Linked DNA regions of Homo sapiens: regions 2, 3, 4, 5 and 6 are each reported to be linked to region 1. Evidence: microRNA targets listed by miRTarBase, many of them from high-throughput screens and not tested one by one. Region 1 holds a microRNA gene; each other region holds the end of a gene's coding sequence.
What was found. The annotated mature microRNA hsa-miR-6869-5p reads GUGAGUAGUGGCGCGCGGCGGC and lies in region 1 at 1,881-1,902, opposite strand. An mRNA with a match to its seed (bases 2 to 7 or 8) in the 3' UTR can be bound and repressed. Matches are read on the target gene's strand: a 7mer-m8 pairs with bases 2 to 8, a 7mer-A1 pairs with bases 2 to 7 and ends in A, and an 8mer does both.

Region 2: the mRNA of TENT5A is a reported target of hsa-miR-6869-5p. Seed matches in the 3' UTR shown: 7mer-A1 at 4,038-4,044.
Region 3: miRTarBase lists PALLD as a target of hsa-miR-6869-5p. Seed matches in the 3' UTR shown: 7mer-A1 at 4,071-4,077.
Region 4: the mRNA of SLC26A2 is a reported target of hsa-miR-6869-5p. Seed matches in the 3' UTR shown: 7mer-m8 at 3,283-3,289.
Region 5: the mRNA of RFC2 is a reported target of hsa-miR-6869-5p. The part of its 3' UTR that is shown has no 7-base or 8-base seed match.
Region 6: miRTarBase lists SRARP as a target of hsa-miR-6869-5p. Seed matches in the 3' UTR shown: 7mer-A1 at 2,713-2,719.

What each region holds. Positions count from the first base shown.
Region 1 is chr20:1,391,060-1,395,933 of GRCh38, forward strand. MIR6869 (microRNA 6869) reads right to left here and starts at 1,902; the gene lies at 1,841-1,902. It overlaps FKBP1A (FKBP prolyl isomerase 1A), which reads right to left and starts at 1,995. Exons shown (of 5, transcript NM_000801.5): 1 at 1,903-1,995; 2 at 1,775-1,822. The coding sequence starts at 1,939. FKBP1A-SDCBP2 (FKBP1A-SDCBP2 readthrough (NMD candidate)) reads right to left here and starts at 2,113. Exons shown (of 10, transcript NR_037661.1): 1 at 1,903-2,113; 2 at 1,775-1,822. RefSeq lists enhancers at 82-595, 1,387-1,887 and silencers at 1,622-1,691, 1,702-1,801, 2,002-2,051.
Region 2 is chr6:81,745,854-81,750,983 of GRCh38, reverse strand. TENT5A (terminal nucleotidyltransferase 5A) reads left to right here. Exons shown (of 3, transcript NM_017633.3): 3 at 513-5,130. The coding sequence ends at 1,289. Among named protein-coding and RNA genes, the nearest start is that of TENT5A, 4.3 kb to the left of the region's middle.
Region 3 is chr4:168,923,877-168,929,006 of GRCh38, forward strand. PALLD (palladin, cytoskeletal associated protein) reads left to right here. Exons shown (of 22, transcript NM_001166108.2): 19 at 379-544; 20 at 1,069-1,202; 21 at 1,357-1,402; 22 at 2,337-4,565. The coding sequence ends at 1,370. It also overlaps a transcript of CBR4 not described here. Among named protein-coding and RNA genes, the nearest start is that of CBR4, 84 kb to the right of the region's middle.
Region 4 is chr5:149,981,266-149,986,326 of GRCh38, forward strand. It overlaps SLC26A2 (solute carrier family 26 member 2), which reads left to right. Exons shown (of 3, transcript NM_000112.4): 3 at 1-5,061. The coding sequence ends at 548. Among named protein-coding and RNA genes, the nearest start is that of TIGD6, 17 kb to the right of the region's middle.
Region 5 is chr7:74,228,786-74,233,755 of GRCh38, reverse strand. It overlaps RFC2 (replication factor C subunit 2), which reads left to right. Exons shown (of 11, transcript NM_181471.3): 11 at 1,540-2,254. The coding sequence ends at 1,650. LAT2 (linker for activation of T cells family member 2) reads right to left here. Exons shown (of 14, transcript NM_032464.3): 14 at 3,922-4,812. Among named protein-coding and RNA genes, the nearest start is that of LAT2, 21 kb to the right of the region's middle. RefSeq lists an enhancer at 4,112-4,391.
Region 6 is chr1:16,004,436-16,009,565 of GRCh38, forward strand. It overlaps SRARP (steroid receptor associated and regulated protein), which reads left to right. Exons shown (of 2, transcript NM_178840.4): 2 at 1,484-4,372. The coding sequence ends at 1,911. Among named protein-coding and RNA genes, the nearest start is that of SRARP, 2.8 kb to the left of the region's middle. RefSeq lists an enhancer at 1-486.

The DNA of each region.
Region 1 (4,874 bases):
GAAGTGCGGCACTGCCTACATGCTGGGGTCCAGTCCTGTTGGCAGCACCAGAACATGGGCGAGCATGAGGGGCAGACGTGGGAGTGGGACACATGCTGCCAAGCACCCTAGTGTGGCTATGTACAAGCTAGGGTGGGGAGGGGGTGCGGCAGAAGGCAGCTCCTCACGGCTTGAGTCCCAATCTTTGCCCCAGTTGGCTGCGGAACTGAATGAACTGCCCACTCACCCCAGCACTGTAAATGGTTACTCTCCTCATCCTTCCGATGACAAATCACCAAAAGGATGCGCTTTCATCTACCAGACCTCCCAGGCTCAGGTGCTGACTGTGGCCTACAAGGACAGCTATCTAAAACATCAAAAGCACTTTCCAGCTTCCTTCACGGACATGAGACTGCCTGCTCCCCAGAAAGATGGGTTTCAGTAACTCCTCCTTTGGCAGAATTTTTAAAGTTCTAGTCCTTAACTTCTACCTCCTGCCCCCATTTCTACCCACGGGGAAGGGCCACAGAAATAAAAGGGCATGGGAGGGGGGATGTTAGTTGCCTTTTCCTCTTTCCAGTGAAAGTCATTTCCCTCAATAGAGGGATCCCTCCATGTTTCCATGATTTGGAAGAGAAAGGTGGAGCTTATTCGTGAGCAACTTGGCCAGAACTGCCCACAGCCTACTACCCAGGAGGAGGAAGAGGAGGAGAGGGAGTGGGAAAAAAAGAGGGAGGAGGAGGGGGAACAGAGGAAAGGGTGGGAAGGTTGAGAAAGGGGAAGGAGGAGGGGGAGGGAAGGTTATTCGTATCAACAACTGTGGCTACACCAATCACTGCCACCCTTGTGGGACCCACAGCCACTGAGTCTCCGCCAACTCAGCTCTCCCCCTCCCCCGCCCCCATACAAACCAGGACAAGCTTGTAAGGAGAAGGAGTAAGACAGCCCCAAGGCACACGACTCTGATGTCTGAATTCTGGCTGGGGAGGGGGAGGTGTCTAAAATTTCCTTTGGCTTGTATTATCACTATGTATTAGCCTCCAGATGCTTATCTTTAAAATGAGGACGAGAAAAGTCTCTACTTCTAGAAGAGCTGGGGGACTAAATTACACGTGCAGCTTTCGGTCAGCCTGAGCCAGCGCTGTCACTGAGCCTTGGATTTGTAAGTGGCTCAAAAGTAAAAAGACGGAAGAAGGCCGTGCAGCTCTACTTCCCCCAAGGCCAGGAAGGGCCAAAGCAATGACTTAGGAAGTGGGATGTTTCCCCACCCTAGGCAAAGGGGCGAATTCCGAGTTCCCCGGAGGAAGCAGCAGCTCTGCAGACTCGGAATTACCTCGTCCTCATCTCCAGTGAAGGGAGGGATGGAAGTGGGGGCAGGGGCACAGAAATGGTACAAATCCTTCCTAATGGTCCCTGGCCAGAGCTCTGCCCATTCCTGAAAGTGTGACCTTGGGAAAGTGAGACCTTGGGAAAGTGACTTCGCCTCGCCAAGCCTCAGTTTCCTCATCTGTGCAGCGGGCATAAGGGCAGCATCTAAGGTGCAGAAATGCTTCTGACGGGTCAGATAACACCTAGCCCGCAGCCGACGCTCACAGCCGCCGATTCAGACCCGCCCGGGTTCCGCAAGCCCCAGGCTGCCCCTGAGCCACCGCCCAGGCCTCAGCCTCGGGCCATGCGGACCTCGCCGCCGCCACGCCCCGGACCCCAGGCCCCGGGCCCCCAGGCCTCGACGGCCAGCCGCACCCGGGCTGCGGACTGCGGCCCGGGCCCCCTCCCCGCTGGGCCCCCGACTCACCGGTGTAGTGCACCACGCAGGTCTGGCCGCGCTTGGGGAAGGTGCGCCCTGAGGAGACAGAGACGGGCATGCTGAGCCGATGCGCGCGGCGGCAGAGGTACTCCGAGCCGCCGCGCGCCACTACTCACCGTCTCCTGGGGAGATGGTTTCCACCTGCACTCCCATGGCGGCGGCGGACGCTGAGCGGGCGGGCGGCGCGACGGGCGGCGTGGACCAACAGCGACCTGGCGGCGGTTCCACGGCTCTGCCTAGTACCTCGGCGCGTCGCCTGCGCACGCGCACGCCCCCTCACGCCCAGCCCTGCGTGCGCGCCCCACACGGCGCGCGACGTCCCGGAAACCCAGGCCTCCGGAAGAGGGACCGGAAGCCCAGAAGCCCCGAGACCTCCGGAAGCCCGGAGGCCTCCGGATACAGCTGTGTTTGCCGGGTGACTTGCTTCGTTCTCCTGCCCTTCCTCTGTGCTTCCAGCCGGTTAAGCATCTCCCTGCCCAAAGAATGGGAGTAATAATAGGGGGTCCGCCAGTCACTGACTGGGTGACTGTCATCAGGTTTCCACTTAGAAGCACACAGTTACTCATCCTGGGAAGAGCATGGTTCTGAGAAGACAGCGCACAGGTGGTGGTAGTATGTTAGTATTTTATAAGTGGCTCAAGGTTGTAAGTTCTGCTTTTCTTCACTGGAGGAGGAGTTGTCCAAATTCATTCACTCACCCATAGCTTACATGCATACATTCTTATTGAGCATGTGAAAGTTGATAATACGAATTGGGTCACTCTTCTTATGCCCAACGGAATCAGAATCCAGGGGCCAGGGGAAAAGCACTGGAGGCACGCAGCGCCTGCTCCAAGAACCAATATTTCCACTAACTGCTGCGGAAATGGCCTGCTGTCCCCCTGAGACCAGATTCAGCTAGTAACTGCTGAAACAACCCGCCATAACCTAATACTAGTTTTACTTACCACTGTCAGTCACCAATCAGAGCTTGCCAGCTCCCTGAAACTTTACTAGTGCCAATGCATTTCCCTTTCTAATAAAACGCCCAGCCTTCTCTTTGTTTTTCGGACATACCAAAGACCACCAGATCTGTGTGTATGCTCCGAGTTGCGATTCTCGCTTCCCCAAATAAAACATTACATTTAGAGATTCATCTCCATATTTTATTTTGACTTTGACAAGCACCTTCTGTATGTCATGTACTGTGCTAGGTGCTGAGGATACAGCGGTGAAGGAGTCAGACTTAGTCCCTGACCTCACAGAATCTACGTATGATGTGGGAGAGATAATCAAATAACCTGTTTAAGTAAAAAAAGATACGGAATAAATGTAAAGTTTCAAATCTGTAATATTATGAGACAGTAATACATGCTGTGAGGGGCGTGTTAATATAACAGAGATGCCTCACTTAGTCTGGAATGTGGTCAGATATTTCCCTGAGTTAGCCAGGTTTAGCCAGGTTTAGCCAAGGTTAGAAGGCCAATTGTGTGTATGTGTTGGGGTAAGGGGAGGCAGAAGGAGCAGTACCTGCAGAGGCACTGTAACGCAAGAGAACACTGTGACATGGTCTAGGACATAAGGAGGCACATGTGACTAATCTTTCTCTGATCTGTGTGTGTGTGTGCTTCTGCATTAGTCGATTCTCACACTGCTATAAAGAATACCTGAGGCTGGGCACGGTGGCTCATGCCTGTAATCCCAGCACTTTGGGAAGCTGAGGCGGGCAGATCACTTGAGGCCAGGCGTTCAAGACCAGCCTGGCCAACATGGTGAAACCCAGTTTCTACTAAAAATACAAAAAAATTAGCCAGGCATGGTGGCACAGGCTTGTAATCCCAGCCACTTGAGAGGCTGAGGCATAAGAATTGCTTAAACCAGGAGGCGGAGGTTGTAGTGAGCCAAGATTGCACCTCTGCATTCCAGCCTGGGTGACAGAGTGAGAACCAGTCTCAAAAAAAAAAAAAAAAAAAAAAAATTCCTGAGACTGGGTAATTTATGGAGGAAAGAGGTTTAATTGACTCACAGTTCTGCATGGCTGGGAATCCTCAGGAAACTTACAATCATGGCAGAAGGGGAAGCAGGCATATCTTACACAGCAGCAGGCATGAGAGAGAGTATGTGAAGAGGAACTGTCAAACACCTATAAAACCATCATTTCTCATGAGAATGCACTCACTACCATGAGAACAGCATGGGGGAAACCACCCCCACCATCCAATCACCTCCCACCGGGTCCCTCCCTTGACCTCAGGATTATAGGGATTACAATTCAAGATAAGATTTGGGTGGGGACACAGAACTAAACCATACCAGCTCCTGTAGTGTTTTAAACATGACCTCACAGTTTTTTGACACCCCAACCCTCATCTATGTCCCCTTTCCTAAAATCTCAGTGAGCTCGTGACTGCTTTGGAAATTTTAATGTAGTAAGAATACAGGCTGTAACAGAACCAAATTAACTGTGGCTGAAAAGAGGCTGAAGTTGCTGTCTCTCTCATGTAACAGTTCAGAGGCAGGTGGTTCAGTGCAGGTAGGACTTCACAGGCTGCCCAGGGACTCATCCTTCTTCTACTTGTGGCTCCCCATCCTTAGAATCCTACCCTCATATGCATGGTCCAAGTTGGCTCTCCAACATATTTTCATCTCAGCTAGTGGGAAGGGGGAAAGGAGGAATGGGGGGTACATTCCCTTTTCCTTTAAGGGTACGACTTAGAATTGCACACATCTCTTCCCGTTATACTTCACATTGACTATAACTTAGTTATATGGTCAAATTTAGCTGCATGGGAGGCTAGGGAATAAAGTCTTCATTCTGGGTGTACACACACCCAACTAAAATCAGAGGTTCTGTGCTCATAGAATGGAAGAATGGAGATCGAAAGATGAAATTAAAAAGAGGGCCCCAGCAGTCGCCAGGACACTGCTTCACACCACCTAGAGAAAATCAGACTGCAGCGAGAATAAATGATGGAGAATGAGAGCAACCAGGGGCGAGAGAGTTCCTGGATTCCGTTTTCCCTGAAGCCTAGCAGAATAAGGCTTGCCTCACATTCATCCTGTGGTCTCTCTCATGGCTCTGAATTGGGTATCGGTTCAAAACATAGAC
Region 2 (5,130 bases), not on the chromosome of region 1:
GGAATGTCATAATTTAGTTTATATTTGATTGTAACTGCAGGGTGCCCCTGGAGGGACACACAAGATACTGATAACATTGATTGCCGCAGGCGGAGAGGAATTGGGTGGCTTGGAACAAGGGCGAGAGGCTGACTAACCTACCGCTGAATGCCCTTCCGAGTCTTTTGAATGTTGTTTGGATACTGTGTGAATATTGTGCCTATTAGACCGTTTTCAAAAAGTAACACTTAAAAAGTCAGACATGACAACAAAACCTCTTACTACTGTGCTACGTCTGCCAAAAGCCTCAAACTATTACCTCTAGTCCCTTTCCCAGACAGTAAAACTACTCGTTAAAAGTATTTTTTTTCTATTTTCAGAAGACCGTTTAAGCCTGTAGGTAGTGTTTGGCTGAAACTTGACAAAACAAAAGGGAAAGAGCAAAATAATTCTCAGCTGTGAAGAGGATGTATTTATTTATTGATTTATTATTTTCTAGGTTTGCTCATTTTGTTTTATCTTTTAAATTGTAGGAAGCTTATGTGCAGAAAATGGTTAAAGTGTGCAATGACTCTGACCGATGGAGTCTTATATCCCTGTCAAACAACAGTGGCAAAAATGTGGAACTGAAATTTGTGGATTCCCTCCGGAGGCAGTTTGAATTCAGTGTAGATTCTTTTCAAATCAAATTAGACTCTCTTCTGCTCTTTTATGAATGTTCAGAGAACCCAATGACTGAGACATTTCACCCCACAATAATCGGGGAGAGCGTCTATGGCGATTTCCAGGAAGCCTTTGATCACCTTTGTAACAAGATCATTGCCACCAGGAACCCAGAGGAAATCCGAGGGGGAGGCCTGCTTAAGTACTGCAACCTCTTGGTGAGGGGCTTTAGGCCCGCCTCTGATGAAATCAAGACCCTTCAAAGGTATATGTGTTCCAGGTTTTTCATCGACTTCTCAGACATTGGAGAGCAGCAGAGAAAACTGGAGTCCTATTTGCAGAACCACTTTGTGGGATTGGAAGACCGCAAGTATGAGTATCTCATGACCCTTCATGGAGTGGTAAATGAGAGCACAGTGTGCCTGATGGGACATGAAAGAAGACAGACTTTAAACCTTATCACCATGCTGGCTATCCGGGTGTTAGCTGACCAAAATGTCATTCCTAATGTGGCTAATGTCACTTGCTATTACCAGCCAGCCCCCTATGTAGCAGATGCCAACTTTAGCAATTACTACATTGCACAGGTTCAGCCAGTATTCACGTGCCAGCAACAGACCTACTCCACTTGGCTACCCTGCAATTAAGAATCATTTAAAAATGTCCTGTGGGGAAGCCATTTCAGACAAGACAGGAGAGAAAAAAAAAAAAAAGAAAAAAAAAAGAGTGATCCAGCCCTTATTAGGGATGTGTTTTGTGCAATGATGATATGCTCCTGGTTTTAAGTTTGGCAAAGCTTATGTATCTTTTAATAGATGTGGGAGCATGATCTCGAAAGGATCCTTTTCCCTTCTCTTATTCTCCTACCCAATTGGATTCTATCCTGCAAAAAAAGAGAGACCTGTCATTAGAAGCAACCAGGTTCTCCTGATACAAGAGAAGAAATGTGTGATGACAATATGGGTTTGCTGTATCTGCTCCCATAGCTTTGCCATAGGAAAAAAAAAAGTGGAAAGTTTCTTTTAAGATGGAATTCATAAAAGGGAAAATACGGAGGAAAAAAGGTCTCACTCCAACTTGTGAATCAGTTTAGGAGTTCAGATATTAATAGTAACAATACAGGAAAAAGGGGAACTCCAACGTTGGGATTACTGTCTGAGGCTTGTAGCAAGTGCTTTCTGTGGAATGATCTTGTTTTGCTAACAAACGGCTTGCTCCAAATGAACAGTAGTAGGTTGGTGCAGTTCTCGTAACAATCAGCAGAACTTATGATGACACAATCCATTAATTCCAGCTGCGTGCATAGATCACATTTTTAAAATGTAAAAATGCAAGCAAAAACAGCTGTAACAAAGAAAGTGTGCTCAAGGACCAAAGATTTAACAGATAAAAATACCCAATTAGAAGAGATATAGTAGACTATATGAAGAGAGATTATATTTGTTACACACCAATATACATCAAAGTGCCTGTTGCCTTCTGAAAATTTGAAGTGGCAAAATTATTTTATGGTTTAATGATTATTTTATTTTATCAGGGACTGCCTCAAGAAGAAAATAACATAAGCTTGTGAATGGTGGAGAAAATGCCCTATTTTTTCTTGCAAATACTTGTATAAAGTTAACATTTGTTGATCTGATATTATCATAGGTACATGTGTATGTGTGTATAAATTATATGTGTGTGTGTATATATACATTTTATATATACATTTTATATGTATATATACACAGTAGATTGACTATGATCTAGAATAATGTCTCAAATAGGAAATGTTTAAATACTGTGTGTTTTTATGTTTTCAACAGGATAACATGAGACGTGGGCATATTGCAATGATGAATTAAATCCACATCTAAAAAAATTAAATGAAGGAGGGAACCAAGTAATATATTTCATAGGAAGAGCAGAAATTATACTGTTTTAGTGGGATTTTTTTTTCTTTTTTTTTTTTTCTTTGGTGAGCCATAAAATTCCACAAATGGGAGAATATTTGTTTGGCAGAGCACTCTTTTTTATATTGAACTGCCATTTTGACAGTTGGAACCCATTTATTAAAAAAAAAATTGCATTCCTCTATGATGTTTAATCTAGTGGATCATGGATCAGTAATAGGCTACTTAAATCCCTGACTGCTAAAAAGGATTTCCGGTGATCTAAACACTACTTGCTAATGTTTAAATGAATTTTAATGAATGCATTCTGCATTTCTGGACCACTAGAATTTAGTAATGTGAAATGACCCTTTTTACAGAATATTTGCACAATTGCTTAAAATTTATATATGAGATATATATTATATATAACATTTTATAAATCATGTCAATATGAAACATCTTTGATCTGGTTGTCACACTGCATTTAAATATTTAGTACTGTACTTTAAATCGCTTTCCATTAAATCAAATCCAACTTTATTTTCTTTCTTACAAAAATACCAGTTATACCTTTGTGAAATGAACTGGCATTACTATTTCAGTTCAATAACAGCTAATCCTAAAACCACCCTTTCTCCTAGCCAGTAGTTCCTCTAGATACTGGTCTCTGAAAATGCATTTGTTAAAAACAAAACAAAACTAACACATAAGAACCTTCCCTTTGTGTTGTGAAACAACCACATAATCTCCACAACCTTAGTGGATGACTGCTTGCTATGATAATTCCTCGAAGACCCAATTAGAAGATTTTCATCATCAGTTAAAGAGAGACCACGGGAGAAAAAAATATCCTCCTGTTGGCAGTATAATTTGTTTGTTTGTTTATCTAGGGATCCTCAGATGCTTAGTGCTAGGTTAATCCAGGTTAATCCGTCTGGACTACCTTTTGTGCATCTTTCTTTGAAGCCTTAATGGGAACCTGATGGGTTTGCTGTAGCAGCTTCCTTGTGAATTCTGTCAGAGCTGCAACAGCCGCTGCACTGCCACTCAGTTTTCTAAGGAACTCCTCCTACTACCATCTTGGCTCAGTCTCCCTCACTTAAGCCCTGGGTTTGAAAAATTAATTGCAACTTCCCAGGAAACATTGTTCAGTTTGCAGATTAAGCCTGGCACTCACCTATCAGAAACCAGAGCTCCGCCTGCTTAGTTGTTTCAAAGTTTTCTGAAAGAAAACTAGGGGAGCACTTGTGAACACAGGAGCAGCTGGTGATCTGCTTTCTTACCCTAACTCTTGACAAATGAGTCGTCTACTATTTTAAAGAGTCTGGAGGTCTCTGACTCTGCCATAACAATAACCTGCTGTTAATTTATAACACAGATTTTTGTTTGGAAGAGCCTTATTTGAAATACACTTTGATTTATTTTCTTAAATATTTATATTCTTTTCTTGCTTACTTCAGGGTTGGTAGCTTAGTTGGAAGTGCCAGCACCTGGCACCTATTCATATAGAACAGGCTGTACTCAAGACAACTTCTAGCATTTACTTTAAGACTTATATAATTTATTTCTATTTTGTGTGTACTATAGTCTTGTGCATATGTAGTTGAACACACAGTGAAATATATGTCTCTCTTTGTGGATGTGCGGCCTAAAAATTTGAATGTCTGGTGAGAGAGAGCCATGTGTATAGGTCAGAGAAAAGAACAGCTCCCGACTCCCTATTAGCGCCTGTGATTTGTTTCCTTTTGTGTTTATCTGGCCTAGTGTGCTGTTTCTTTAAACCAGGAAGAAGTTTTGTCTTTTGGAGGCTCTTCTCACCTGTCCAGCCTGGCATGTCAGAGAACACATAGCCTGTGACAATGCCGTTTTTAAAGGTTTACTTAATTTGCAGTAAATCCAGCTGCCTCAAGAACTCCTACACCAAGATGGACATTTCCTTTCCAGAAATGGGATCAAGTATCTGCTCACTTTGGTATTGGATGGACTAATAATGTAGCTCCAAAAATGCAAGGATGGAAGAATATGTGTAATCCAAACCAAGGAAGGAAATGAAAAGTGAACGTACTGTTTTTACCACCCCTTTCTGTTTGCTTATTGTTGGTTGCTTCACTGTGCATAAAGTTGTTTTCAATGCAACGCTTGTTAAATAAATATTGTGAACTATTTTGTAAATGAAATGTATTATGTTGAAAGCTGTCAGTTCAAAAATAAGCTTTTTTGTTGTTGTTGAAGATGAAGTGTGTTAGGTGAAACCAAAAAGCCAAAAAAAGTAATTTCATATATAGCATCTATTTGAATATAATCTTTCTTTAAAATTTCTTTTAGCATAGCATTTTCAGTGCTAAGAAAGAATCTCTATGTTATATTTTGTTAAAATAATGGCTTTCTAACAAAGCAAATGGTAAAGTACAAAGTTGGAAGATGTCAAGTTAACGAGACTTGCTGCAAAGCCTTGCAGAACGGAGGAGGCTCTGCCTGCTGGCTGTCTCTCCCTCCAACCTCTCTACAATCATGCCTGCTTTGAGGTGTTCTGTTGCAGCAAGCTGCACCTTGGGTCACTCTTTTGGAATATTTTGACTATAGGCTGCGTCACAGGCAGAAAAGGAGTTGA
Region 3 (5,130 bases), not on the chromosome of region 1:
ACCACTAGGTGGCAGTAGTTGGTTGAGGCTGTGAATGATCGGTAACATAATCACTAGTAGTGAAGCCATCACAGATGCTAGCAATGACTTAGGAGTCTCCCACAGCTGGTCAGACAGGCATTCTGTGAAGCAGATGGCCAGTGGACAGTGTGAGCCTATCAGACTTGAATTAATTGAGGAAATAAATGAGCGGAATGAAGTATACAGACCTTTGCTTGGTAAAAGAATAATTTGGAGAGGGGACTAGCATCTTACCACCTGGAGTAAAAAATGGTATCATAAAAGATCTATTCAAGCAATATTCCAAAAGCCTTCTGAATTCTTTCTAGTGCTCCTTTTGTATATCATTGATAGAGAATTCATCTCATGTTTTCTTAGCTAAAGAAGCACACAAACCCCCTGTGTTTATTGAGAAGCTCCAAAACACAGGAGTTGCTGATGGGTACCCAGTGCGGCTGGAATGTCGTGTATTGGGAGTGCCACCACCTCAGATATTTTGGAAGAAAGAAAATGAATCACTCACTCACAGCACTGACCGAGTGAGGTAAGACTGCACAATGAGAACCTGATCCTTAACTGTTCAGTCCTAATGATGTATCAAAAGATACATTTTATATAGCATGGAAATCTATGTGTAAAAGCCACATAGATGTTTTGATTTTTGATGAAATCAATCAAAGACAAAAACCATGCGTTACCCAATGTAGGATTAAGCTTTTAGAAGGAAGCTATGGGTGTTTGATCTAATGGTGATTTCTTAAAAGTGTTTATCATTCTATCTAAAAGAAAAGATGAATTCATTTGCTTTAGTGATAAAAGACTATTCAGTGGTTTTTGTAAAGGCAGATCCTCAACTAGGAATTAAGCACACAGATGTATTCAACTCTTGACGTCTGTTCTTTCTCCCATTAACTTTAATGGAGCTAGTAATCTCTACAGAATAAGTATGACCCTATTATCAGCTACTTGCACAATTCTGTTTCTAATGATCTAATTAAAAATGATGCTTCATGTCCAAAGCCACTTTTAAAAAATTTAGAACCCTAATGACTTTATCCTTTTCTCCAGCATGCACCAGGACAACCACGGCTACATCTGCCTGCTCATTCAGGGAGCCACAAAAGAAGATGCTGGGTGGTATACTGTGTCAGCCAAGAATGAAGCAGGGATTGTGTCCTGTACTGCCAGGCTGGACGTTTACAGTGAGTGCCACTTCATCTCATTTCATTGCGTTTACTCATTAAATTATGAAAAATTAGACATCTGGACAGCAAATCACATTACTCTTTATAAACAACTATTGTGTTTTATTTGTCAAAAAAATTCATATTGCTCTCTCTCTCTTTCTATTTGTAGTTTCTCGACATTAATAGTGAACCACACCAGGAGAACAAATACCCAAGTATCATTCAGGAACTTTGAATTATTAGCAAAATATGCATGTTGATTTCTCTTACATTGGCTAGTTAGTTGTGGCTTCCTTACTCAAGCATCCTTAGGAGTTAACAGTAGGCAAAGGCATAACCATGTTTTTCACATGTTCTTGTTACTGTGTTCTGCAAATGACTGCCTTTTAACATTTCTTCCTATATTCTATCGCAGTGTCCTAATGCACTCTAAACGTGTGTTCCATTGATCCTGGAATGCGTACTTTTGTGGCTTAGTGCTTTTCTCATTAATATATCTTAAGCAGCCAGCAGTAGACTTGTGTTTGTATATTTGTGTACATGCATCCCAAATTTAAAGAAAATTATTCCTATTGAATTTACAGTCTAGTACAATCAGCATTATGTTATCCATTGACATAAAAAAAACACTAGAAAAAAATTAAGAATTTATTTAAGAATTTATTTCAGATTTTGCCTCTTCTTGAAATAACTATGTGAGGGTCATCAAGAAATGTGTGGCCTCAACCTTCCCTACTGTACGATTCCTTTCAGTTGATTAGTGTTAAAGCATCCACATCCAGCAGAATTCCTAAGTGCTATAATTATTTTAGAGAAAATATTTTTTAAAAGGAGAGGGGGGATGAGAATTAGGAAGCTTATCAGCTATTCCAAAGGATTCCCTGTGCTGCAGTGTTTACTTAAAAAAAAAAAAGATAAACTACACTTGACCTTTGTAATCTAGCTGCTTTATTCCCACTATCCTGTATAGACAGTAAATCTGCAACATGTGAGTAAAATGCAAAAGTGTTCCTAAATTTTCCATGTTTCTACCATGGATGTGTTCAGGTGCCTTGCATCTATCTAGACATTCTGTATTTATTTGAAATATCTAAAGGCTTTCCAAGTATATCTTGATTAAAAATCTTAATTTACTCTTTTTCTTTGTAGCCCAGTGGCATCAGCAGTCACAGAGCACCAAGCCAAAAAAAGTACGGCCCTCAGCCAGTCGCTATGCAGCACTTTCGGACCAGGGACTAGACATCAAAGCAGCGTTCCAACCTGAGGCCAACCCATCTCACCTGACACTGAATACTGCCTTGGTAGAAAGTGAGGACCTGTAATCCAGCATTCTTGTTAAAGCTGAAACACTGAAACAGCCATTGCCTTGACCAACATATTCCTTTGTCACATTATGTAAAAGGCAGAAACATACCTTTGACTATAAGAAATTAAAAAAAAAACACCAAAATAATATTTTTCTTACTTGATATACCAAACTTAGTTTAAGTAGATAATGCTAATACAAATATACACATTGCACAGAAAATACACATTTACTGTCCAATTTAAAACTTTGGAATTGCTGTGATTAAAGTGATCAAAATGCCAAAATACTAAAGGAAATCAATTGTTCACAGGTAACTACAATTTGTATTATCTACAAGTGCCTTTAAACACAAGATATAGGTGCTGTGTAGCCTGATAGTGTGAAATGTTTAATGAGGGAGTTGTACCACAAACAGTACTACAATGATTCTGAAGCACAGTGTATTCAGACAGATACAGTGAACCAAGTGCAATATGTAAGGATGAAAGAAGAAGAGATGACAAAGAAATCCAAGTAAATGCCTTGTCTTTGCAAATGTTTTTATATTAAATCATAAGGAAGGAACTACTTGCCTTAAATGTTAATATCAAAAGAGTTTTCTAACAAGGTTAATACCTTAGTTCTTAACATTTTTTTTCTTTATGTGTAGTGTTTTCATGCTACCTTGGTAGGAAACTTATTTACAAACCATATTAAAAGGCTAATTTAAATATAAATAATATAAAGTGCTCTGAATAAAGCAGAAATATATTACAGTTCATTCCACAGAAAGCATCCAAACCACCCAAATGACCAAGGCATATATAGTATTTGGAGGAATCAGGGGTTTGGAAGGAGTAGGGAGGAGAATGAAGGAAAATGCAACCAGCATGATTATAGTGTGTTCATTTAGATAAAAGTAGAAGGCACAGGAGAGGTAGCAAAGGCCAGGCTTTTCTTTGGTTTTCTTCAAACATAGGTGAAAAAAACACTGCCATTCACAAGTCAAGGAACCCAGGGCCAGCTGGAAGTGTGGAGCACACATGCTGTGGAGCACACATGCTGTGGAGATTGCAGTGTGTCTGAGGTTTGTGTAGTAGTGGAAGATTTTAGGTATGTAGAGCAAGTTGAAAATGGATTGAGACTGCATGGTGGCATAAATGAGAAATTGCCTGTAGCATCTAGTCTACTTGAAGGAAGTGGAGACATAAGGAGAGACAAAAACAGGTTTGTGCCATAAAGTATTTTTTCAAAGACACCAAGATGTGGTAAATGAAAATTATTAGTTCACTTCCCTGCTGCCATGAAACTTTGCCTTAAGAAGGTGCTGGATTCCAAGGTTTGTAAAGGCATCTCGGTAAAGACTGCTTTTTGAATGCATATGATTTTGCATCAGCTAGACTGAGTTGATTCTGACCAGACTTGATGGTTTTAAGTCGGAACCGATAAATTTTAAAAAGGAGAAAAAATAATTTGACCTAGTAGTATAAAACATGAGGCTTTAATGGTACTTTGCTATGAAAAGAAAACACTGTATTCCTTATGCAAAACACATGTATCTTTCATTATTTATAAGTGGCCTCTCTTAGCTCAGTTACTCAATTCATACGTAGTATTTTTTAAAATAATTTTATATCTGTGTACCACCCCATATATTTCATATTACTGTTTCACATGTACAGCTTTCTACTTCTTTGTAAGAACACCAACCAACCAAGGTTTAAGTGATTAATAGGCTTGAGCACCGGGTGGCAGATGTTCTATGCAGTGTGGTTCAAGTTTCTTTGACCGCACTTATATGCATTGCTAATATGGAATTTAAGATACCATACACAGTCTCTCATGGACCTATCTCTATTGTAGAATTATGACTTATGTCTTACTTGCCAAATTTTTCTGAATGTGACCTTTTTTTGCTGATTTGCTGGGTTTGGGATTAACTAGCATTATTTTGCCACCTTTATATTGTATTTATAAAAAAAAAAGTACTATCAATCAATCATACTACTTTGGATTGTTGTGCTGGTGTAATGTGGATTTAACATCAATAAATATTTGACAAATAATAGTTGCAGTTTTGTGAAGCAAAATAAATATTCAGTTTTAGTTTTCTGTTGCTGCCATAACAATTAGCATAAACTTTGAGTGATGTTTGAGGCTTCAGCATCACTCATTTATTACTCACAGTTCTGTAAATCAAGTTCGGGCAGGATGTAGCTGGGTTCTCTGTTCAGGATCTTATAAAGCTAAAATCATTGTATCAGCTGGACTGTATTCTCATCTGGAGCTCAAGATCCTCTTCAAAATTCAAGTGGTTGTGATAGCTCTGTGCAATTGTAGAAGAGACGTCTCCTTTAGTCCCTCAGCCAGGAGCTCTCTCTCTCAGCTCCTGAAGGCCGCCTGTATTCCTTGCCATGTAGCCCGCTCCATCTTCAGGGTTAGTGGTGAGAATCTCCTTCACCTCAGATCCCTCTCACACTTTCTCTTTGTCAAAGGCCCAGTCCCTTTTAAATTACGTCAGGCCCATCCAGATAATCTCCCTTTCTTAAAGTCACCTGACTTTGGGAACCTTAATTACATCTGCAAATCCCTTCAAAGCAGCAGCTAAATCGCCATTTGATTGGAATAACTGAGAGAAGGTGTGTATACACCAGA
Region 4 (5,061 bases), not on the chromosome of region 1:
AAGAGTCTGAGGTCTTTGAATCTGTGTCTGCTTACAAGAACCTTCAGATTAAGCCAGGCATCAAGATTTTCCGCTTTGTAGCCCCTCTCTACTACATAAACAAAGAATGCTTTAAATCTGCTTTATACAAACAAACTGTCAACCCAATCTTAATAAAGGTGGCTTGGAAGAAGGCAGCAAAGAGAAAGATCAAAGAAAAAGTAGTGACTCTTGGTGGAATCCAGGATGAAATGTCAGTGCAACTTTCCCATGATCCCTTGGAGCTGCATACTATAGTGATTGACTGCAGTGCAATTCAATTTTTAGATACAGCAGGGATCCACACACTGAAAGAAGTTCGCAGAGATTATGAAGCCATTGGAATCCAGGTTCTGCTGGCTCAGTGCAATCCCACTGTGAGGGATTCCCTAACCAACGGAGAATATTGCAAAAAGGAAGAAGAAAACCTTCTCTTCTATAGTGTGTATGAAGCGATGGCTTTTGCAGAAGTATCTAAAAATCAGAAAGGAGTATGTGTTCCCAATGGTCTGAGTCTTAGTAGTGATTAATTGAGAAGGTAGATAGAAGAATGTCTAGCCAATAGGTTAAAATTTCAAGTGTCCAACATTTCCCAGTTCCACAGTGGGAAATTTTGCACACTTGAAATTTTAACCAAGTGGCTAGATATTATTCCTCCTTTGAAGCTAATGGCATTTGTATATACACACTGCAGCAGAGCTTGTAGCTGGACAGAGTCAAAAAGAAGAAAATACGGTTTCAGGCTTTCTTGCAGATATGAAGTATTCTTGGAATGCAATAAGTATGTATTGAACTGTACTGTAAAGTAGCTCCAAAACTTAATTACTCTCCTGTTTTAGGGGTTATACATTTGGACTGTGCATTCTCCAAGAGATGAAGCGGTGAAGTTGGGATTTACATTGGAAGTGCTGTAGACTTCTTTATGTGGCTCAGTGGAGAGAGGGAAAGAATGTTGCACCTGCTCTAGTACCATAGGTCAAGAGGCTTCTGGATCACAAAGTCATAACTAGACAGGTTTGTTCTTGTAGTTTTCTATCCCCAGTCTTTGCTCCCCAGATGGCAGTAGTTTTTAGTAGGAAAGTGCCATTCCTGTCCTTAAGGCACAGTCTCATCAGAAGTCTAATACCTGGGCAGGTTTATAACATCCTGAGAGCCAGCCTGACATTAGACAGAATACCCTTTGTAATACATTGGAAATTTTTACTCATGCCTTTTTGTTTAGGATAAATAGGTAAGCACAAAGAGCTCTTCAAAATCAGAAAAAACAATAGGAGTCCTTCCTTGTCTTTTCTGTGATCTCTGTCCTTGTTTCTGAGACTTTCTCTACCATTAAGCTCTATTTTAGCTTTCAGTTATTCTAGTTTGTTTCCCATGGAATCTGTCCTAAACTGGTGTTTTTGTCAGTGACAGTCTTGCCAGTCAGCAATTTCTAACAGCATTTTAAATGAGTTTGATGTACAGTAAATATTGATGACAATGACAGCTTTTAACTCTTCAAGTCACCTAAAGCTATTATGCAGGAGGATTTAGAAGTCACATTCATAAAACCCAAGTGCTATGGGTGTATTATTCATGATAGCTGGCCCACAGGTCATGAATTGAGGAGGAATTTGCTTTCAAAAAGCAAGAATGTCCAACACTGAAAGTTTATAGTTTTATATTTGGACCTTGAAAGGTAAGAAAAAACCAGGTTCTCCAAAGTTAGGAATAGGGAACTAATTTATGAAACAGCCATCTTAAAAAAAAAAAAAGTAAACTGCAAAAGTACAAAATCATTTTTCAATCTGTTCCCAGTTTCTAAACAATTTTAAATATTTATGAGAAGCAAACCCTATGTGTAGGGCATCTGTTGGAGTGGGATGCTTTTAGACATATATTAAGTATGTACATGTTTAATATGTATATTTAAAATGCATATATATTTTATTATATCTATATTATCCTATATAGATATATGTAACTTAGCTTTATTGTTAGCTCCATAAGCTGCCAGTGTTGCTTTTCTGTTGGTAGAGCTCTCCCATTTGGTGACATGGAAAATACCTTTCCATTATCACAACAAAGCAGTTGCTCAGTAGAAAGTCTAGATTTCTGTCTTATAGGTGATTTCTGTCTTATAGGTGATTATAATCAAGTGTAGGCTTCCTGAATTTTGACATCCTTTTAGAACTTGGGTCTGGAATTCCAGAAATGTTAATTGCTGCTTGTATTTGTTCTTGTTTGTTTTTTAGCCAGTATTTGCCCTTTCTATCCAGCCTTATGAATAATAGCAGTAAAATCACAGTATCTTGGTCAGTCTTTATTTTTTTCCTTTTTTCTTTTTTAAGAGACAGTCATCCAGGCCAGAGTGCAGTTTGATGATAGCTTACTGAAGCTTCCCACTCCTGGGCTCAAGTTATCCTTCCATTTTGGCCTCCTGAGTAGCTAGACCATAGGTATGCATCACCACACCCTGCTAATTTTTTAAATTTTTTTCTAGAGAGAGGGTCTCACTGTGTTGCCCAGGCTGGTCTCAAACTCCAGGCTCAAGCAATCCTTCAGCCTCAGCCTCCCAGAGTGTTGGGATTACAGGCGTGAGCCACTGCACTTGGCCAAGTTATTTATTTTTAATCTCTCTTGCCCTTCTCCCAAGGCAGGCTTAAGTTGAGACTATTATAGGTGTCTAATAACCTGTGACAGAGTAATGAGTACATGCTTAAGATGTTATAATTAGCCAACACCAACACAGCAAAAAATATAATTCCAGCCAAAGATTCTGGAAAATCCCTCAGAAGGAGGGATAACAGGATTTGACCTTTACCAGCGATTTCTGTCCATATGTGGATGTAAACAGTTCTGGAACGTTATGCATGCAGTTAGCGAATCCTTGAATTATGTTCTGGTTTGTACTTGTCCCATCCATCCAAACAAGAGATTCTGCTTTTGGTAGCCATCTGTAGAAACATTTAAGATGTCACTAGAATTTACATTTCATCCTCTCTACTTGGGTTGAGGTTGCCTATACTTGCATATTGTTAAAATGTTTTGGTTGCTGATATTCAGAGGAATGAAACCTGGAACCAAAGCCTAATTTGCCGATAAAAAAACTGTTTTCGGCCAGGTGCAGTGGCTCATGCCTGTAATCCCAGCACGTTGGGAGGCCGAGGCGGGTGGATCACCTGAAGTCAGGAGTTCGAGACCATCCTGGCTAACACTGTGAAACCCCGTCTCTACTAAAAATACAAAAAATTAGCGGGGCATGGTGGCACGCGCCTGTAGTCCCAGCTACTCAGGAGGCTGAGGCAGGAGAATTACTTGAACCCGGGAGGCGGAGGTTGCAGTAAGCAGAGATTGTGCCACTGGACTCCAGCCTGGGTGACAGAGCGAGACTCCGTCTCAAACAAACAAACAAAAAACTGTTTTCATTTGCTCTCTTGACCAAAGGATAGGACTTTAGTTCTTTAAGCATTATTTTAAACACTATATTGATACAAAAATATCTTGCTTACTCTAAACTTTAGAGTCTAAATGAAGCTTTTTCTCAGTACAAGATTCTGAGTATCATAAAATGGTTATTTAATTGAAACGTAGTGTGGTATACTCTTGATGGTTAGAACTCTTACAGCCTTATTTATTTTTAAGTTTGTTACAGCCAAAGGGTTGGAGTGTGCCAGTGCACAGGTAGACTAAGGAAAACATTATAGAGGAGTGAAGAGAACAGACCATTGAAAAGACTATTATCTGACCAGCGGAGGCAGAAAAGAGAGGAACCCAGTTGAATAGGATCCAATCCCTGGTTAGCCTCTACACAATAATAGGGAGACAAGGATTAGGAGCCATACCTCCCAGAGCAAGGTATCTTTCTAGAGCAAATTTCTCTTTCTAGAAGGGGAGGGTCACAGGGTCACAGATTCACCAAAGCTGAAAGGGCTGAGGAGCTCATGGTAGCCTGGGCTGACCTACTCTGGAGCACGGTGTCTTCCTTCTAAACTGAGTGACTGTAGTACTATCTGTGCCTCTGATGGTAATAAAACTGACAAGATGTCTAATTTTTTTTTAAGTAGGACCAAAGGAAAACAAGATTTAGATAGTCTGACTTTGCTTTTGAACAACAGACATTGCAAGTCAAAATTGTTGTCAAATTTACATATGGTAAATGATGAACTTTAAAAATGTGTCCAGGTGTTAGATGAGTTCATTAGACTCTTTTAATGCTAATGGCTAGTACGTTTAAACAAAACAGCAGTTCTCTGCTGCAATATTCCCATTGACCACTTAAATGACCATAAGTGGTCATTTAAGAACATGTTAGGGTTAGCCCTGATCTGAATATAAAAGTGAGAAAAGGGCTACAGTGCATTTCTTGGTAACTTAAACTGAGTCTTGAAGTTATAATGATCCATTCGAGTTCTGTGATCCTTATTGTTCTTAATTGTGTTTCTCTACGTATTGTTACAGATGAGCCATACGTTTCTTTGTATCAATGTAGACATGACTTCAGATACCTCTGAGGACCTACCCAGCAGTCTAGGACCCTGGGCCAAGTGCTGGGACTATGGTACTAAATCCAGTAGATGGGCTGTGTAGCAACTCTCCCAGGGAACACACTAGGGTACTTAGGGAGGTGCTTTGTGGAGCATGTTGAAGCTTTGAGATCTGAGCAGGAGGCAGTGATGTCCCTGGTCTATTCAGGGAAAGATTTCAGTGTGAAATGGTAAACATCCAATTGACAGGATTTAGATTTTGCTTAGTTTTTCTGCTTTTTAATGTTTCTATCCCCCATCTCAGTGTTTTCTTTATCCATCCCAGTGATGCCTTATTTGAAACTGGGCTTAAACTGCAAAAAGAATGAAGTTGGATTTAGGAAGCTGTTAGATCATTGAGTGGTGTTGAGAGTGAAGTTTCACTAGCAGGGAAGTTTCCTTGAGCCTAAAATAAAAAGAAAAAATTAAAAAGAATCAGTTTTTTTAATTAAAAAAATAGAAAGCTGTTAGGCTCCTAATTCGTGGGGTTTTTTTTTGTAAAAACAGTTTAGATAATCCTGAATGCAATCATTAACTTGGT
Region 5 (4,970 bases), not on the chromosome of region 1:
AGTGGCTTACACCTGTAATCCCAGCTACTCGGGCGGCTGAGGGAGGAGGATCGCTTGAACCCAGGAGGTGGAGGTTGCAGTGAGCTGAGATCACACCCCTGCACTACAGCTTGGGCGACAAGAGTGAGACTCCATCTTAAAAAAAAAAAAAAAAAAAAAACCAATAACAACAACAACAAAATAACCTAATAGGCATGTGATGAGATCTCATTGTGCCTTTAATTTGCATTTCCCTAATTACTATGCTGAACATTTAATCATGTGCTCGTTTGCCATCCAGAATCTTCTTTGATGAAACATCTGTTCATATATACCCATTTTTTAAAATTTTTACATTTTTTATTTTAATTGTACTGTATTTTTTGTTTAGAGATCATGTTAAGACCGGCCAATTTTTATATTTTTGGTGGAGACGGGGTGTCCCCGTGTTGCCAAGGCTGGTCTTGAACTCCCGGGCTCAAGTGATCCTCCCGCCTCGGCCTCCCAAAGTGCTAGAATTACAGGTGTGAGCCACTGCGCCTGGCCTACCTTTTTTATGTTTTTGAGAGACAGGGTCTTGCTCTGTCACCCAGGCTGGAGTGCAGTGGTGCGATCATAGTTCACTGCAGCCTCAACCTTCCATGCTCAAGCAATCCTCCCACCTCAGGCTCCCGAGTAGCTGGGACTGCAGGCATGTGCCACTACACTTGGGTCATTTTTATTTTCTTTTTTTCGTAGAGTTTGGGTGTTGCTATGTTGCCCAGGCCCAACTCTGGGCAAGTGATCCTCCTGCCTCAGCCTCCCAGAATGCTGGGATTACAGGTGTGAGCTACTGCTCCAGGTCTAAATCTACCCATTTTTTAATTGGGTTGTTTGATTTTTATTACTGAATTTATTTACTTATTTATTTTTGAGATGGAGTCTTGCTCTGTTGCCCAGGCTGGAGTGCAGTGGCACTATCTCAGCTCACTGCAACCTTCGCCTCCCAGGTTTAAGTGATTCTCCTGCCTCAGCCTCCCGAGTAGCTGGGATTACAGGCGTGCGCCACCATACCTGGCTAATTTTTGTATTTTTAGTAGAGATGGGGTTTTACCATGTTGGTCAGGCTGATCTCGAACTCCTGGGCTCGTGATCCACCTGCCTTGACCTCCCAAAGTACTGGGATTACAGGCATGAGCCACCACGCCTGGACTTTATTACTGAATTTTTGAGAATTCTTTATACAGTCTGGATGCAAGTTCTTTATCAGATATATAAATATTTTCCTCTAGCCTGGCTTTCCGTGCCACCACCCCGCCCCCCCTCGCCCCACCCATTTTCTTAACAGTTTCTTTGAAAGAACTATCAGCATCCTTTTAAGAAATAAATAGAACTTTAGGTAAACATAATCCATTGCATCTTAGCATTCATTTTCCGGCTGGGGTTGGAATTCCTCATGCTGATTTTGAAAAAACCATTAGTTCAGTTTGTTTCTGTTTTTATTTTTATTTTTTTCAGTTCAGATTTTAAAAAAGAACTCCCCCACTTATTAACCAGATTTGAATTTGGTTTGTTTTTCAGGAAATTGGATACACTCACATGAAAATAGCGGAAGGAGTGAACTCTCTTTTGCAGATGGCAGGCCTCCTGGCAAGGCTGTGTCAGAAGACAATGGCCCCGGTGGCCAGTTAGAGCAGAGACTTCACTGACTGACTTACAGGTGCCCTATTCTGAGGTACAGGAGCCGCGGCTTTCTGATGGGGGAAAATGCCGCCTTAGGCTGGAGCCAACATGACTGTCCTTTAAACTCCAGTGGCTGGCCAGGCACGGTAGCTCACGCCTGTAATCCCAACACTTTGGGAGGCCGAGGCAGGTGGATCACCTGAGGTCAGAAGTTCAAGACCAGCCTGGCCAACATGGGGAAACCCTGTCTTTACTAAAAATATAAAAATTAGCTGGGTGTGGTGGCGGGCACCTGTAATCCCAGCTACTCGGGAGGCTGTGGCAGGAGAATCGCTTGAACCCAGGAGGTGGAGGTTGCAGTGAGCCAAGATCACACCATTGCACTCCAGCCTGGGCGACAGAGTCTCCATCTGGGGAAAAAAATTAAATAAATAAACTCCCGTGACTTGCATGTTTGCTTCTGGGACGTCTGTGCCCCGCAAGTGTTTGAGTTTGGCCTCCACCCCATTGATGCGGTGACGGGGCGGAAAGGCGCAGAGAAGCTGAGGGCGGTCTCTGATCTGTGTGTGGGTTGACATTTTAGCTAATAAAGCCTTGCAGTGTTTGTTGGCAATAAGGTGACCATGTGAAGCCTCGAGAAAAACCAGCTTCCTGTCTCTACGGGCCTTGGCAGCCTACAAGTAGAAAAGGCGATTAGATAGTAGACCCACAAGCTCATCTCGGTTCTTCTAGAAGCCTGAAGGCGCCACTTCCCCAGGGCGAGGGCAGGGTTTGCTGTCTTTCCTATTTAGACTGATTTCTCAGAATGGCCAGGTGGCGAGCCTTTCAGAGAGGGCGGCAGAGTGGAGAGATGCAGCCCAGCCCTCAGGAAAACACCGTGATGCTCTTCCTGTGTTCTAGACCATACTCTTTGCGCTTGCTTTAGAATTCCCCAAAGAATTTCGTACTAATTTGTAGAATTGCCTTTTTTTTTTTTTTGGTAAGATACTATTTTTTTCCCTTTTTGTTTTGTTTTGATTTTTGAGATTGGGTCTCACTCTGTCGCCCAGGCTAGAGTGTAGTGGGCCAATCTTGGCTCACTGCAGCCTCAACCTCTTGGGCTCAAGTGATCCTCCTACCTCAGCCTCCTGAGTAGCTGGGACTACAGGCATGTACCACGATACCCAGCTAATTATTAAATTTTTTGTAGAAATGAGGTCTCACTATATTGCTGGGACTGGTCTCGAACTCCTGGCCTCAAGTGATCCTCCCACCTCAGCCTCCTAAGTGCTGGCATTACAGGTGTGAGCCACCATGCCTGGCCCATTTGGGCACGGTGGCTAAAATACGAAATACTAAAATACGAAATTAGCTGGGCATGGTGGCGCACGCCTGTAATCCCAGCTACTCAGGAGGCTGAGGCAGGAGAATTGCTTGAACCCAGGAGGTGGAGATTGTAGTGAGGCAAGATGGTGCCATTGCACTCCAGCCTGGGCGACAGAGCGAGACTCTTACAAAAAAAGGAAGAGAAACTTGTCCCTGAGGTTGTACAGTCAGGACTTCAGGATGTGAAGTAACAGGTGGGCGGCAGTTGGGTTCTAGATGTTTCTTCTGATTTCCTAACTTGTCGCATTAATTTCTTCTCATGGGAAGAGTCCCTGGGCCATCCCAGAAAGACGGCTGGACTTGGGAACTAAGATCCCATCCGCAGCCCTGATGCTCTCAGGGTCCCTTTTTATTAAACAAGAGCTGTGGCCGCCATTCCCTTAAGGCTTTTTGTGTTTGGTTATGTTTTTTGAGACAAGGTCTCCCTCTTTCGTCCAGGCTGGAGTGCAGTGGTGCGATCTCGGCTCACTGCAAGCTCCGCCTCCCGGGTTCACGCCATTCTCCTGCCTCAGCCTCCCAAGTAGCTGGGACTACAGGTGCCCGCCACCATGCCCGGCTAATTTTTTTGTATTTTTATTAGAGACGGGTTTCACTGTGTTAGTCAGGATGGTCTCGATCTCCTGACCTCGTGATCCACCCACCTCAGCCTCCCAAAGTGCTGGGATTACAGGCGTGAGCCACTGTGCCTGGCCGTGTTTTGTTATGTTTTTTGAGACAAGGTCTCCCTCTTGCCCAGGCTGGAGTGCAGTGATGCAATCATAGTTCACTGCAACCTTCTGGGTTCAAGTGATTTTCCTGCCTCAGCCTCCCAAGTAGTTGAGACTACAGGCATGCACCACCAGGCCCGGCTAATTTTTATATTTTTATAAAAGGTTTTTTACCTGAAGCAGGAGAAAGGAGACACAGGATAATCACTGCTTTTCAACTAAAATGGTTTTATTGAGATGTTTTGGTTGGAGGAGATACTTTTTCTGGCAACATTTCTGACTCAAGGTCCCTCTGGGCCCCAGCTCTTCCCATGAGACAGTCACAACACTGTTTAATCAGCTCTGCAGAGGCCAGCCCTGGAGCAGAGGAGGATTCAGGGCCATGGAGGGGACCTACTCTGCCCTGTTCTGGTCACTACTTCTCTAGACTCTCATGCACTATTGTCTGTAGCAAGTGACATTTCCACTGGAAGCACATAAAGATGGCGACAGCCTCATTTCTTCCTGAGTGAACTGAAGCCCAAAGAAAGGGGAGGTCCCACCAAAGGGGAAGAGAGCCAGGGCCCCACCCAACAAGGATGCTGAAATAAACTACATGTAATGCTTTCTAGGAGACAACACAGAAATCTCTACTCTGAAATCCAGAATGTTAAATATGGCTCCCCCTCTATAAGTTAACTGTACAAGCTTATCAATCATTTAAAACCCCAGCAACCAACAATAGCAATTAGGAATCCAAATTCATAGCACAAAAGAACACAGATACCAGTGTTGGACAGTGGTTTTGTTATGGGGACTGGGTGACAGCTTATCCTAAATCCTGCGCATCCGTCCATACCAGGAGCCGGGTTACCCTTGGTACCAGGTGCCTGCCCCACAAAGCCTGGGTCGGGAGAGGGCTTGGTGACGGGCCTGCAGCTCCCGTGAGTAACTGTCTTTTCCCAGGCTGTGCACGCATGGCCAGGTGGTCCTCAGGGTGGCTGGTTCTCCTTCCAGGAGCAACCATGGCAGGGGCTTAAAAGTTGAGTAGCTCTGGGAAATGGTCCTTGGAAGGCAGCGATGGGTCCATGAGCACAGTGGTCCCTCTTTGCCTTGGCTCCTTAAATGAAGAGGAAAGTTTGTAGAAGGAGGTTTGCCTTGATCAGTATTTTGTTCCTGAGAACCATAACCACTGGTTTGGGGACACCATTGAGCCTGCCTCCTGGCTGAGAACAGAAGCCGCACATCAATAACTGGGTTTCTTTTTTTTTTTTTGAG
Region 6 (5,130 bases), not on the chromosome of region 1:
CAGGTGCGGTGCCTCATGCCTGTAATCCCAGCACTTTGGGAGGCCGAAGCGGGCAGATCATGAGGTCAGGAGTTCGAGACCAGCTTGGCCAACATAGTGAAACCCCATATCTGCTAAAAATACAAAAAATTAGCTGGGTGTGGTGGCGGGTGCCTATAATCCCAGCTACTCAGGAGGTTGAGGCAGGAGAATCGCTTGAACCCAGGAGGCGGAGGTTGCAGTGAGCTGAGATCGCACCACTGCACTCCAGCCTGAGCAACAGTGTGAGACTCCATCTCAAAAAAAAAAAAAAAAAAAAAAAAGCAAGACCAGCTGGGGGTGGGTGGGGGTCTGATGGCAAACATGCTACCTCCCTTGGGTTGCTGGGATTCTCCAGCCAAGGGCGGGCTCGTTTTATTTCCTGTGCTAGCCAACCTACTAGAACATAAGCTTCCTTCTGAGCCCACGTCGTGTTTCACAGCACGTAGCTAAGAGAATGGATGTGTATGTTATTTGGGTAACTCAAAAAGTTACCTTTTTAAGAGCACAGGCTTTGGATTCAGATACAATTGCTCAGACACCTGCTTCATTGATAAGTCTATTGGCTGGTTTGTCCATCCCTCTACCCTGTGCTGGGCTCTGAGCGGGGGGATTGCCAGGGCAAATGCCACCAGGTACTGATGGGATTCTCTGAGGCTGTGGACAAGATTATCTGGGGAGGGGGAGAGTAGCAAGATGCTCCCTGAGACCCACCAACACTTGTGCAGGCTGAGCCTCAGTTTCCTCACCTGGAAAGATGGCCAGGGCTTTCCTCTCTGGGGTTGAGGACTGTGCTTTTCATAATATGGTCCATGGACCAGCAGAATTGGCATCCCCTGGGGACTTGTTAGAAACGCGAGTCTCAGGCCCCACCCCAGCCCCACTGCACCAGACTCTGCATTTTAACAAGCTCCCCAGGCAGCTCATGGGAACAGCAAAGTTGGGAGGCACTGACATGTTGGACTCTGTGTTCCTGGAAGGCAGATGGATGGATGGTAAGTGGAGACTTGAACTCAGGTCTCTCTGATGCTGAAGTCCATACACTTAAACCCTGACTGTCCTCCTCTGTTGGTGTATCAACCAATCCAGTTGAACCCTATCGAATGAATAAACAAATGAATTCAGGAAACCATGTCCCAGTCGGGTGCAGTGGCTCACGCCTGCAATTCCAGTACTGATTGGGCTGAGGCAGAAGGATTTCTTGAGTCCAGGAGTTTGAGACCAGCCTGGGCAACATAGGGAAACCTCATCTCTACAAAAAATTTTAAAATTCACCAGGCATGGTGGCATGAGCCTGTAGTCCCAGCTACTTAGGGGGCTGAGATGGGAGGATTGGTTGAGCCCCCTGAGGCTGAGGCTGCAGTGAGCCATGACCTCCAGCCTGGGCGACAGAGTGAGACCCTGTCTCAGGGGAAAAGAAAAGTCCCCTGCTTGTGCTAACTTTTGGTCTTTTCCTCTCTTCTAGGTGGGAAGCTGGCTGGCCATCAGAAGACCGTCCCCACGGCTCACCTGACTTTTGTTATTGACTGCACCCACGGGAAGCAGCTCTCCCTGGCAGCAACCGCATCACCACCCCAAGCCCCCAGTCCCAATCGAGGGCTTGTCACCCCACCAATGAAGACCTACATCGTGTTCTGTGGGGAAAACTGGCCCCATCTGACTCGGGTGACCCCCATGGGTGGGGGATGCCTTGCCCAGGCCAGGGCCACCCTGCCGCTCTGCAGAGGGTCTGTGGCCTCAGCTTCCTTCCCAGTCAGCCCGCTCTGCCCCCAGGAGGTTCCCGAGGCTAAGGGGAAACCCGTGAAGGCTGCGCCTGTGAGGTCTTCAACTTGGGGAACAGTCAAGGACTCACTGAAAGCCCTCTCCTCTTGTGTCTGTGGGCAGGCCGATTAGCTGGAAGGGCCGGGCTCTGATGCCCAGAGGCTGCAATTCCCAGGGCCTGGCCCTGCTTCCCCAGCTAAGCAGGAGTCTTTTGTGCTTGAGCCAAGGAAACATCATTAGATCCGCTAAGGGGCATCTGAAACATCCGTCGAGTGGCAGAGGCAGGATAAGTCACCTGCACATGAAGAGACTCATTCATTCATACAGCAAATATTACTGGTACATCTTCCACATGCCAGGCCCTGCAAAGTGCTGGGGAGATACCATGGTTTTCCTGGAGCTGGTATTTTTGGGGTGGAGGGAACCCACCCTGAATAAATAAAGTAACCCAATAAATAAAGAAGATGATTTTGAACAGCGATGAATGCTCTGCAGGAACTGAAACAGGATGCTAGAGGGAGAGTGATTGGGGTGAAGACCTTTCCTGATGCAGTGCTTGGTAAGGGCCTCTCTGCGCAGGCAACAAAGTGTGATCTAAAAGATGAGAAGGGGCCAGCCCTGAGAAAATCCACCCTCCCCAGGGCCACCTGCTGTCATCTTACCCCAGGGCAGGCCAGAGCAGTGGTCAGAATGCCCCAGCATGACGGGGAGGGGCAACGGGTTTCTTGCTGCCATCTTGGCTCAGAGGCGAGTGTGTAGGTCACTGCAAAGGCAGGGGATACCACGTGGGGAGACTCGAGGGCCATGCCAGTTGGGGCTGGGAGGCTCAGGGAAGTTGGCTCCAGGAGACTCCATCCCATAAGGCAGCCCAGGTGGGACCTGGGGATCTGAGATGGGAAATAAGGGGATCTGGCTTCTCAAAAGGGAGGGAGGTACTCAAAAATAGAGTATCATGTTTGAACGAATGAAAACAAGACATGTTATTTATTGAGCATCTACTGCATACCAGGCTCATGCTGCCCTCTAGGGATAGCAAAAAAAAAAAAAAAAGGTGGGGGGAGGAGGTTCACCCCTCAGGGCAATCGTGTTCCCTGAGCAGGAGGTGGAGTTACTGGTGTGGGTGTGAAGGTGTCTGTGAGTCTAAGGCATGCACAGCACTGTGAGAAACCCTAAAGCAACCTATTTAAGGAAGTCAGTCTCAAAGCTCCCAGATAAAAATCACTGGGTTTTTCTGTATTTATTTTAGAGACAGAGTCTCACTCTATCACCCAGGCTGGAGTGCAGTGGAACAATCACAGCTCACTGCAGCCTCAAACTCCTGGGCTCAAGTGATCCTCCTGCCTCAGCCTCCCGAGTAGCTGAGACTATAGGTGCACCACTACGCCCAGCTTGACTTCTTTTAGTAGAGAAGAGGTCTCACTGTGCTGCCCAGGCTGGTCTTGAACTCCTGGCCTCAAGCTATCCTCCCGCTTCAGCTTCCCTAAGTGCTTGGATTATAGGTGTGAGCCACCGTATCTGGTCATTAATTTATTCAATGACTATTTTACTAGGTTCCTACAAATACTAGCTGCTAACATTTAACATGTAATTGACCATTTACTCTGTGTCAGAGAAACAACATGGGCACTGTATTTGTGACCATTTTATAGATTAGAGAGCTGAGGCACAGAGAGGTTGAAGAATGGACTCAAAGTTCCATAGACTGGTACCATTGAGATTAGAACTCAGGCAAGTCTGGTGCCCATATTCTTGCTTGTAACTGTAAGGTATATACCCTCTCATCCTGGTAGCGTCTCTTCTAGGCAGAGGGGACACACAGAGGATAAATGTAACCCTGTCCTCAAGGAGCTCACAGCCAGGTGGGGGAGGCCAGAAAGAAAGCACACAATTGCCATAGCTTCTGAGAAGTGCAACAGTAAGGGCAACACAGAATGATGCTGGAGGACAACCAGCCCACTCTAGAGAGAGGAGATCAGGGAGGACTTCCTGCAGGAAGTGATGCCGAAAATGAGATCTGACCGGTGACTAAGCTATACAAAAGGGTGGGGTGGGGGAGCAAGTGGGGAGTGCTCTGGGCAGAAGGACCAGTCGTTCAGTCTGGCTAGGGTAATTGTCATTCATTCATTTATTCACCAAGTATTTATTGGGCATCCACTGAATGCCAGGCTTTGGGCTAAACCATGAGATGGAGCAATGAATAAGACAATGAGGCCCAGCCACAAAATAGTTTATCCTCTAGTTGGGGGAGACAGGCAATGCACACACACAAAACAAACAGATCAGAAAGGTGGCAGGAGGCCAGGCGCGGTGGCTCATGCCTGTAATCCCAGCACTTTGGGAGGCCAAGGAGGGGGAGGCGGGGGGAGATCACCTGAGGTCAGGAGTTCGAGACCAGCCTGGCCAACTTGGCGAAAACCCGTCTCTACTAAAAATATAAAAATTAGCTGGGCGTGGTGGTGGGCACCTATAATCCCAGCTACTTGGGAAGCTGAGGTGAGAGAATTGCTTGAACCTAGAAGGCAGAGGTTGCAGTGAGCCGAGATCTCGCCACTGCACTCCGGCCTGGGTGACAGAGCAAGAGCAAGACTGTCTCAAAAAAAAACCAAAAAAGTAAAAAGAAAAGAAAAGTGGCAGAAGCTGCATCAGGTGAGGCCTGGCAGGCTGCAACAAGACCTTTAGATCTTAGATCTTATTCCCAGATGGCAGCACTGGAAATTGTGAGCAGACAGCGTCATGGCCAGACGTACCTTTGGAAAGGATCCCTCCGGGCCTTCTGACTGCAGGGAGGAGGCACCGGAGGCTGAGTCTTAATCCTGAGAAAGGAGAGCAATGGTTTGGACTAGAGAGGAGGACGCAGTACAATCTGGTCGACATATGCCCATTCTACTCTCCTGAAGGCCCCAAGGACAAGGCTGCAGAGGGAGTTTGAGACCCTCAAGGAGAAAGGAGACCTGTGGCTGCACATCCGGCTTTTCACCAGCAGGTGTCGCCCTCTCATCAGACTAGAGGACACTGGGTCCAGGCCTGGACAGGGAAGGTGTGGACCTGCTGGGTCTGGGACTAAAGCCTTGGGGCCAGCCAACCAGTGGGTCTGTTTTTCAGAAGCCAGACTCATTCTAACCAATACTCCTTTCATCCAGAATAATGAATGTTTACTTTATGCCAGGCACCCAGCAAAGTGACATTTCAGAATTGAACCCTGGGGGGTCTTGGTGAGGATTCAGAGGAACCAGGCACTTATACCACTTATACTTGCTCCGTAAAGGGAGCTGTCATCATTACTATTGATGTCGTCAGTTACTATAGCTGTCGTCATTACGGGGCAATTGAATATACACCCCACACCCCATC